2 linked regions of the Homo sapiens genome follow. The protein of the gene in region 1 purifies or fractionates together with the protein of each later gene. This does not show direct contact. Each region holds a gene or a part of one and is shown on either strand. Other genes may lie near its edges. The genes, in order: IGSF5 and PASK.

Region 1 (3,811 bases):
CTTTGGGAGAATTCTACTTTCCCTAAGGCTTCTCATTAGAGGGTGGAAAAGGCATTTACAAGCTTGTCCAATGAATGGCAGACGTCATGAGTCAGTCCTTTCCAAAAGCCCAGACTTCCCCACTGCACAATATCTCCATGTAACAAAACTGCATTTGTACCCTCGAAGTCGGTAAAAGTTTTTTTAAAAACTTTCTATTAATTGAATCCTGACCCCACCCCCCCCAGCCCATCAAATTTCAGCCAAGTCTCAGCTTTCAACCCATCCCAAGAACAGTTCACTGTGAAAGCGACACTCACTGAGTAGAAACCATCCAGAAATTCTGAACTTCTCAGAGAAGCCCACGCTTGTAGTTTTTAACTCTGTGGAAGTTGGAAAGCGAAGATCATGTGTGCAAATGTCCAGAACTTTCCTGGGAAACCCAGATAACGGCCTGTGCGGGGCTTGAGGGGCCCTATGGAGAAACTCACTTGACAAACACCTGTCACAGGGGAGCCACAAACTGGAGTTGTCTTACCCCAGATGACAGGTAAACCCTTTGGAGGGCTTCAGCAAGGGTGCTTCATTTCCTAAAGGCCTCTTCGTGGCTCTTGTCCTCTCTCCATACAAATGTAGAAACACACTCTTGTCTGGCCTCTAGAGAGTCCTGATGCTGCCTCACCAGAACCAAAGTTCCTCAAGAAATGGCTCTGTCACATCACAGACTGTGTTATAAATGCAGATGTGGCCTCACAGTCCAGGGAGGTATAAGCTCTTCAGAGTGCGTATTTCCTCATTAATCATCACCAAGCTCCAAACAGCAGCCAAACACAGGAAGTCCAGGCCCCGGGCTGGGAACGCAGAGGCCTCAGGGCCAGTCTATCCTCTCCACTCCGGCCTCCACTCCCTCTCCCTCCTCTTCCAAGTCCTTCGGAGTCAAGGCACTGCTCAGCTCCCGCCCTGGTCCTCTTCCACCAGCTGGAGGCTGACAGATCCTTCCTGCCCAAAACATGCTGCCTGGCTGACTGACCTTGCCTCCAGCAAAGGCCCAGCGGCTGGTGGAACTGGCTCCTTCTCCCAGCCAGGCACCTTGACATCCACAAGAACAAATCCTCTTAAGAAAGAAAAAAGTCCCGAGGGTGCGTCCTCTGGATGAGACAGCCATTAGGAGTAAGTGTGGCTTCCATGGCATTTGCTGGAGGACTGGTGGATAGGGCAGAGCTCCAACCCCCCACCCTCAAGTGCTAGGAGATGAACACAGGAACGTGGCTTTGCAGAGCACTGTGACAGTTCTGGAAGACTGTGTCCCAAGAACCTGATGTTCAGCACCATACTGAACTGCTTTTTTTTTTTTTTTTCTGGAGACAGTGTCTTGCTCTGTTACCCAGGCTGGAGTGCAGTGGCACGATCATAGGTCACTGCAACCTTGAACTCCTAGGCTCAAGCAGTCCTCCAGCCTCAGCCTTCCAAAGTGCCGGGATTACAGGTGGGAGCCACCACACCCAGTGAAAGGTCTGCTTTTTTAATGGTCCTTTTTGATAATCTTGTCAGGGAACTCAGAATCAAGGATTTCTGCATGTAATAGGCACCAATGGAAGATATAGCTAACATATTTAAAGACCAAGAAGCAAGTAAATGGGGCCAGGGGAGGCGAAGAATGCTCTTCCTTCCAGTTGAAGGTGTGAAAGGAAAATAAATCACGGGACCCCAAAATCACTAAGCCAAAGGGAGAAAGTCAAGCTGGGAACTGTATCAGGCAGACCTGCCTCCCATTTTATTCCTAAATAAGATAGCTATAAAGATGAAAAAGCTGCATACCTCCTTCACAATTTGCCCATGAGAAAAATTCCCTTGTGGGCCTCAAGATCTTTACCTTAAAAACAGTTCCGTTGAATTTCACCCTGGCAATGTAAATTGTAGCTGATCTTCACAGGTGCGGAGCAAAGGCCAGAACTCAAAGTCATCTCTCTGCTTACCTGAGACAAATGTGTATCTGATTGCTTTCTCTGCCGTATTGCTTAGTAAAAATACAGATTCATTGAGTCAGACAAGGCATAACTGCCTATTCCTCTACCCCTCTCTCACATGTAAATTGTGTATTCAGTGAGAGGCTGATCAACCTTGTGTCTCTTGTCTACCTACAACTTGGAAGCCCCCACTTGGAATTGTCCCACCTTTCCAGACCAAACCAATGTACACATTACACTTATTGATTGATGTCTCATGCCTCCACAAAATGTATAAAACCAGGCTGTGCCCTGACCACTTTGGGCACATGTTTTCAGGGCCTCCTGAGGCTGTGTCATAGGTGCGTCCTTAACCTTGGCAAAATAAGCTTTCTAAATTGATTGAGACCGGCTGGGCACGGTGGCTCATGCCTGTAATCCCAGCACTTTGGGAGGCCAAGGCGGGCAGATCACCTGAGGTCAGGAGTACGAGACCAGCCTGGCCAACATGGCGAAATTCTGTCTCTACTAAAAATACAATAATTAGCCGGGCGTGGTGATGTGGACCTGTAATTCCAGCTACTCGGGAGGCTGAGGCAGGAGAATCACTTGAGCCCAGGAGGCGGAGGTTGCAGTGAGTGGAGATCGTGCCACTGCACTCCAGCCTGGGTGACATGGCGAGATTCTGTTTCAAAAAAAAAAAAAAAAACCTATTTGTCTTTCCAAAAGAAACCTATTTGTTCTTTCTATAGGAAGCCTTTCTCCCCCCTTCTCCTCCCCTACAACGTTAGATATATAAGCCTTTTAACTCTTTAACTCTATTAATGAGCCAGCTACTTCCTTTGTTGGCTCCCATATGCATAAGGCATAAACATTTTTTTTCTCCCGTTAATTTGTCTTTTATGTTTCTTCCACAGGCGCCTGGTGCTGAACCTAAGAAGATAGCAGAAAAGTTAATTTTTGTGTGTGTTATACAATAACCAGACACTTGTCTCATTTGTATCCTTTTTGTCATCCAATGCAACTTTCTCAGGATGACTTCAGCTGCACGTCACAATTCAGTGAGTGCTGAGGCTTACTTCTAACCTCACTGGCTGTTTTCTGGTGGAACTTCAGTTGACCACAACCACTCCATTAAAATAAAAAAATTATAGTGTGAAAATCATTCCTTTCCACAACTAGCACATTATTTTCTAGCTTCTATAAACGGAATTGTGTTCCCCCGAAATTGCTATGTTGAAGCCCTCACTCCCAATGTCATGGTATTTAGAGATGAAGCCTTTGAAAGGTCATAAGGTCCTCAAAATGGAGCCCTCGTGATGGGACTCAGGTCCTTATAAGATCTCGTTCTCTTGAGAGGCCAAAGTGGGCAGATCATGAGGTCAGGAGTTCCAGACCAGCCTGGCCAATATGGTGAAACCCTGTCTCTACTAATAACACAAAAATTAGCCGGATGTGATGGCACGTGCCTGTAGTCCCAGCTACTCCAGTGGCTGAGGCAGGAGAATTGTTTGAACCCAGGAGGTGGAGGTTGCAGTGAGCCGAGATTGCGCCACTGCACTCCAGCCTGGGTGACAGAGAGAGACGCTGTCTCAAAAAAAAAAAAAAAAAAAAAAAAAAAGATCTTGTTTTCTCTTCACTTGCACACTTCAAGGAAAAGTCATGTGAAGACACAGCAAAAAGGAAGCCACCTGCAAGCCAGGAAGAGAGCCCTCACCAAGACGCTGACTCTGCTGGCACCTTAACCTTGGACTTCTAGCTTCTGGAACTGTGAGAAATGAATGTCTGCTATTTAACCCACCCTGCTTCTAGTATTCTGTTGTAGCAGTCAAAACTGACAGAGAGTAGTGTTTCTCCCTCCACAGAAAATGGCCATATCTGAAAAT
Region 2 (3,811 bases), on another chromosome or scaffold:
GTTTATAAGAATATGTCACAGCCCCCGAGACAGAGAGGAACATCAAACCAGAAAACAGTCACCCCCTACTCCGCCCCCCACCACCCCTGAGCCTCTGGAGGGACAATAGCTCCTGCTCCTCCCAGCCCTGTCTCAGAGGCATGGGGCTGTCTGGGGCTCAGCAGCTACAGGCGCATTCAGGAGGAAGAGGACGTCTTACCCTGGCCCCCCTCAGCTGGGTCCTGGCCCTGCCACGGGTCCAAGGTTCTCTCCCCACACCCACTCTCATTGCCGACGTCCAGGCAGCTGGCCAGGTCTGGGAGCTGTAATGAGCTGTTGTACGCAAGGTCCATGTAGCTGTAGAAACCAGGAATCAGGAAAGTGATATTCTAGAAAACAAAGCAGGGACATTTCAGAACCTGGAGGATCCACGCTGACCCACTGGACCGTCCCCCTGGGGGAGGAATGAACACAAGGAGAGCCAGTCCCTGAGGGTTCACCCTTAAGGTCAGGAAAGGCCTCGGGCCAAATGCCCTTCGACGCACCTGAAGCCCCTCAGATGCTCAACATGTGATCTGTGATTTTCCCCTTAAGAAAAAGGTAAAAACATACTCTGCGGCAAGTTACAGTGACATCGACACATCTTTGGAGCAGACATCTGGCCTTTGGCCCCATGTTTAGATGGATCTGGGAGCCTGTGTTTGCAAGCCTCACCTCACGCGGCTCACTGGTGGCCGGAACAGTGACATGCACCCAGGACAGAAGGACTGTGGGGCCTTCCTCCCAGGCCAGGAGCTGCTCTGACAGATGCTTCCTCTGAACCTGTGTGTGGCCCCCTCACCGGGACACTGCCCATAGCTGTAATGCCAGAACCCGCTCTAACCTCACAGAGGGCACAAGTGTCCATGCCCCCAAAATCCCTGCAAGGTCTCAATGCCCTCAGCTCCTGTGGGAACCCCTCATCCAGGAAGAACACTAACTGCTTTTTAACTAACTTAAATTTAACGTAACTACAATTCAGCTTAGCTACTTTTTAGTATTTCTACTAGGGTGAGAAATGAACCCCCGCAGTTGTGTCGTAAACCCTGGTCCATCAGTCAGACCAGATCTCTCAGGGCTTCGAAGCACAGTGCTCCTCTCCCTCCGACGGTGGTTGCTGGGGAAGGGTGGAGAGGAAGGAGCTTGGCAGCCATGAGCAGGGACCTCCCTCCCTGGACCCAAGGTCCTTCCTGGGTAAAGGAGCGAGCTGGAGAGCTTGCCGGGTGCGAGGCCTGTGCCACACGCAAGCCCGCACTGCAGAGCACAGCAGCTTCCTCCCAGGGAACGGGAGCCAGGCGCCCAGGGCAGCCCCACCTTGCCCAGGAGCTCCGTCTTTCCGTAACCAAACAGTGTCAGCGCGAAGCTGTGGTTGATGCCGTGGATGGTCCCATCCGGCAGGAGGGTGATGAGGCCACTGATGGTGCAGAACACCCAGACAGATGCCCGGTAGCCGCTCACAGGGGCCGCCTCACCGGTGGTCGCCTCCTCGCTGCTGGGTTGGGATTTCAGCTTTAAGCTCAGAGGGAAGGTGGTACCGTCCCTGGCTCTTCCAACAGACCTCTGAATCTTGAGATTCTGAAAGAAAGGCTTGTCGTTTGGCTTAAGCCGTGTTTCACGTGGACAGAGCACTGAGTCTGTGCTGCGTCCGACCCGACTTCTACCCCACGTCATCGGGGAAGGTCCCCAGGACATCTCACACCCACACTGCTCTGCCTTCCCTCTCCTCCCAGGCCCAGCTGGCCCAGGAAAGAGCCCTTCTGTGGGTGGGGAGGACTCAGTGTCCAGAGCCGCCCCAGGCACAGCAACCCCAGGGCAAGTGAGACACCCCAGTGAGGGGCCGGGCACCAGCAGGGAGGGAGGGAGGGAGGACTGTGGGGCTCAGGCTCGGGGCTCAGCCACGCCACTGGCAACTGTGCCATCCTTGATCTGGCACCAGGATACTGGCCCCACAGGCAGCACTACACCAGCTGCGCAGCTGTGGATGTTACCTCCCACCCCTCAGCCTTGGGCAGCGTCCCAGCATCCACCTCTGTGGGTGGCCCAGCTCCTGGGAGAAGACTCAGGGGACAAGAGTGGTCAGCTGGGAGACCACATAGGCTCCGGCCCTTGGTCAAGGCCTCAGCGCACAGGAAGCTCAAAACTGAGCATGTCCCACCCCTAAGGCCACCCTTGCCTTCAGAAACCCTTGGTCTGCGTCTCCAGTTATGGATTCAGAGCTAAGAACTCCACCCCATCACACAGTGCGGGAGGTCAGGAGCCCTACCTTTGGGATGTGCTGGCCAGAAGGAGGGAGCTGCACAGAAGGGATCAGGTCTGTGATATGCTGCCCAGCCACGTCCTCCCCAGACACGTACCCGTGAAGATGAGCAAAGAGACTGTCACATGACGTGACGGTGCCCTGGAGGAAAAGCCCCGTGCTTATCATAAAAGCTTCTTGTGCTCCAGCTGTAAATTTAACTAAGCTTCAATATGTTCAAGCCAAAAGCAAGACCCCAACATGACTTCTCCATCGGAAGGGCAAGAGACATATACACATGAATTTGATAAGAGCTTCATCATCTGTCTCCTTCTACCAGAGACGTACCTAAATTGTGGGCCTTCTTGTTCTTCAGGAGCCTGGCCCACACCACAGCTCATTAATAACATCCCAGTTCACATATGAGGGCTGTCTCTAATGCCAGCTACTATCCTGGGGGGTTTACATATATTATCTCATTTAAATGTTGAAACAATCTTATGAGGAGTTATGATTATGCCCCAGTTCACAGGTGAGGAACTGAAGTATAGGAAGTTCGTTCCCTGCCCAAGCACACGCAATCAGCGAGGGTACCACTGGGCAGACCCTCCAGGCTCCTCATCCTCTCTTTCTTCCCAAAGGAATGAGACAGGGACCAGCACTTGCTGAAGAGGAGAACGACGCCGGCTCCAGCGTCCATGAGACATGAGGCAAAGTTGCACACTCACATCGCTCTGGAAAGCGACCCAGGTCGAGACCCTCTCCACGGGCTCCAGGACCACCACGCAGCATAGGCGGCGCTCCTGCCGCATCCTCTTCATCCACACAGACACTGGAATCTTCTCCCCACTACGGCTGATGATGTCCACCTGTGGAAACAGACAGGTTCACACCTGCATGCCATGAACCCAAAAGACCAGTATGGGTGGGGCACCTGCCTCCAGGAGGCCCAAACTCCAGGCACTGCAACGTTTTCAACTTCTGCTTACCTGATTTTCATTTCAGAAATTTACCAAAGCACAAACAAGATTTCCCATACTGAACATTAAAATCTCCAAGTGCAAGTTTTATCAAGAGAGTAGATTTCATTCTCAGTTCATGGTAATATTGCAGGGTGAAAAAAGCAGTATCTGTTATTTCTTAAAGAAACAGACACCAACACATGGTGAATATCTTAGTTTTTTTCTTCTTAGTAGTCAGTTTCTTGAACCAGTGATTTTCTGATACAATTGGTCCTAAGCCTGTGACATCAGTTCAGTTCAAGCAATGGGGTCTTCTGTGTGAAAGCCACACACTAGGTGGGAAACAGGCAACCTGGAGGATCTGGATGACTACTAGAGCCTCAGATCATACCCCAACCTCCACTGCCCTCCAACGCTACTCCCCCAGTCCCCGACCGGCTGACGAGGGGAAACCCTACAATCAGCCATGCCTTGGGCTTTTTCCATGCCTTGGGCTCAGTCCTCCACATCCAACTCAGCTCACCTGTCAACATCCAGGTTGGACACATGGCACAGGTGAGAGAATCAACACTGTCTAGGGAAATGCTTCCAGGCC

What was found.
Region 2: the proteins of IGSF5 (region 1) and PASK purify together in Homo sapiens (affinity purification with mass spectrometry; one large-scale study listed by BioGRID and IntAct). This does not show direct contact.

The regions. Positions count from the first base shown.
Region 1 is NC_000021.9:39,748,037-39,751,847, reverse strand, and holds part of IGSF5 (immunoglobulin superfamily member 5), read right to left. Parts: intron 1-3,811. UniProt on the Homo sapiens protein: Provides, together with MAGI1, an adhesion machinery at tight junctions, which may regulate the permeability of kidney glomerulus and small intestinal epithelial cells. Mediates calcium-independent homophilic cell adhesion.
Region 2 is NC_000002.12:241,135,672-241,139,482, forward strand, and holds part of PASK (PAS domain-containing serine/threonine-protein kinase), read right to left. Parts: intron 3,124-3,811; coding exon 2,983-3,123; intron 2,417-2,982; coding exon 2,282-2,416; intron 1,594-2,281; coding exon 1,333-1,593; intron 369-1,332; coding exon 200-368; intron 1-199. UniProt on the Homo sapiens protein: Serine/threonine-protein kinase involved in energy homeostasis and protein translation. Phosphorylates EEF1A1, GYS1, PDX1 and RPS6.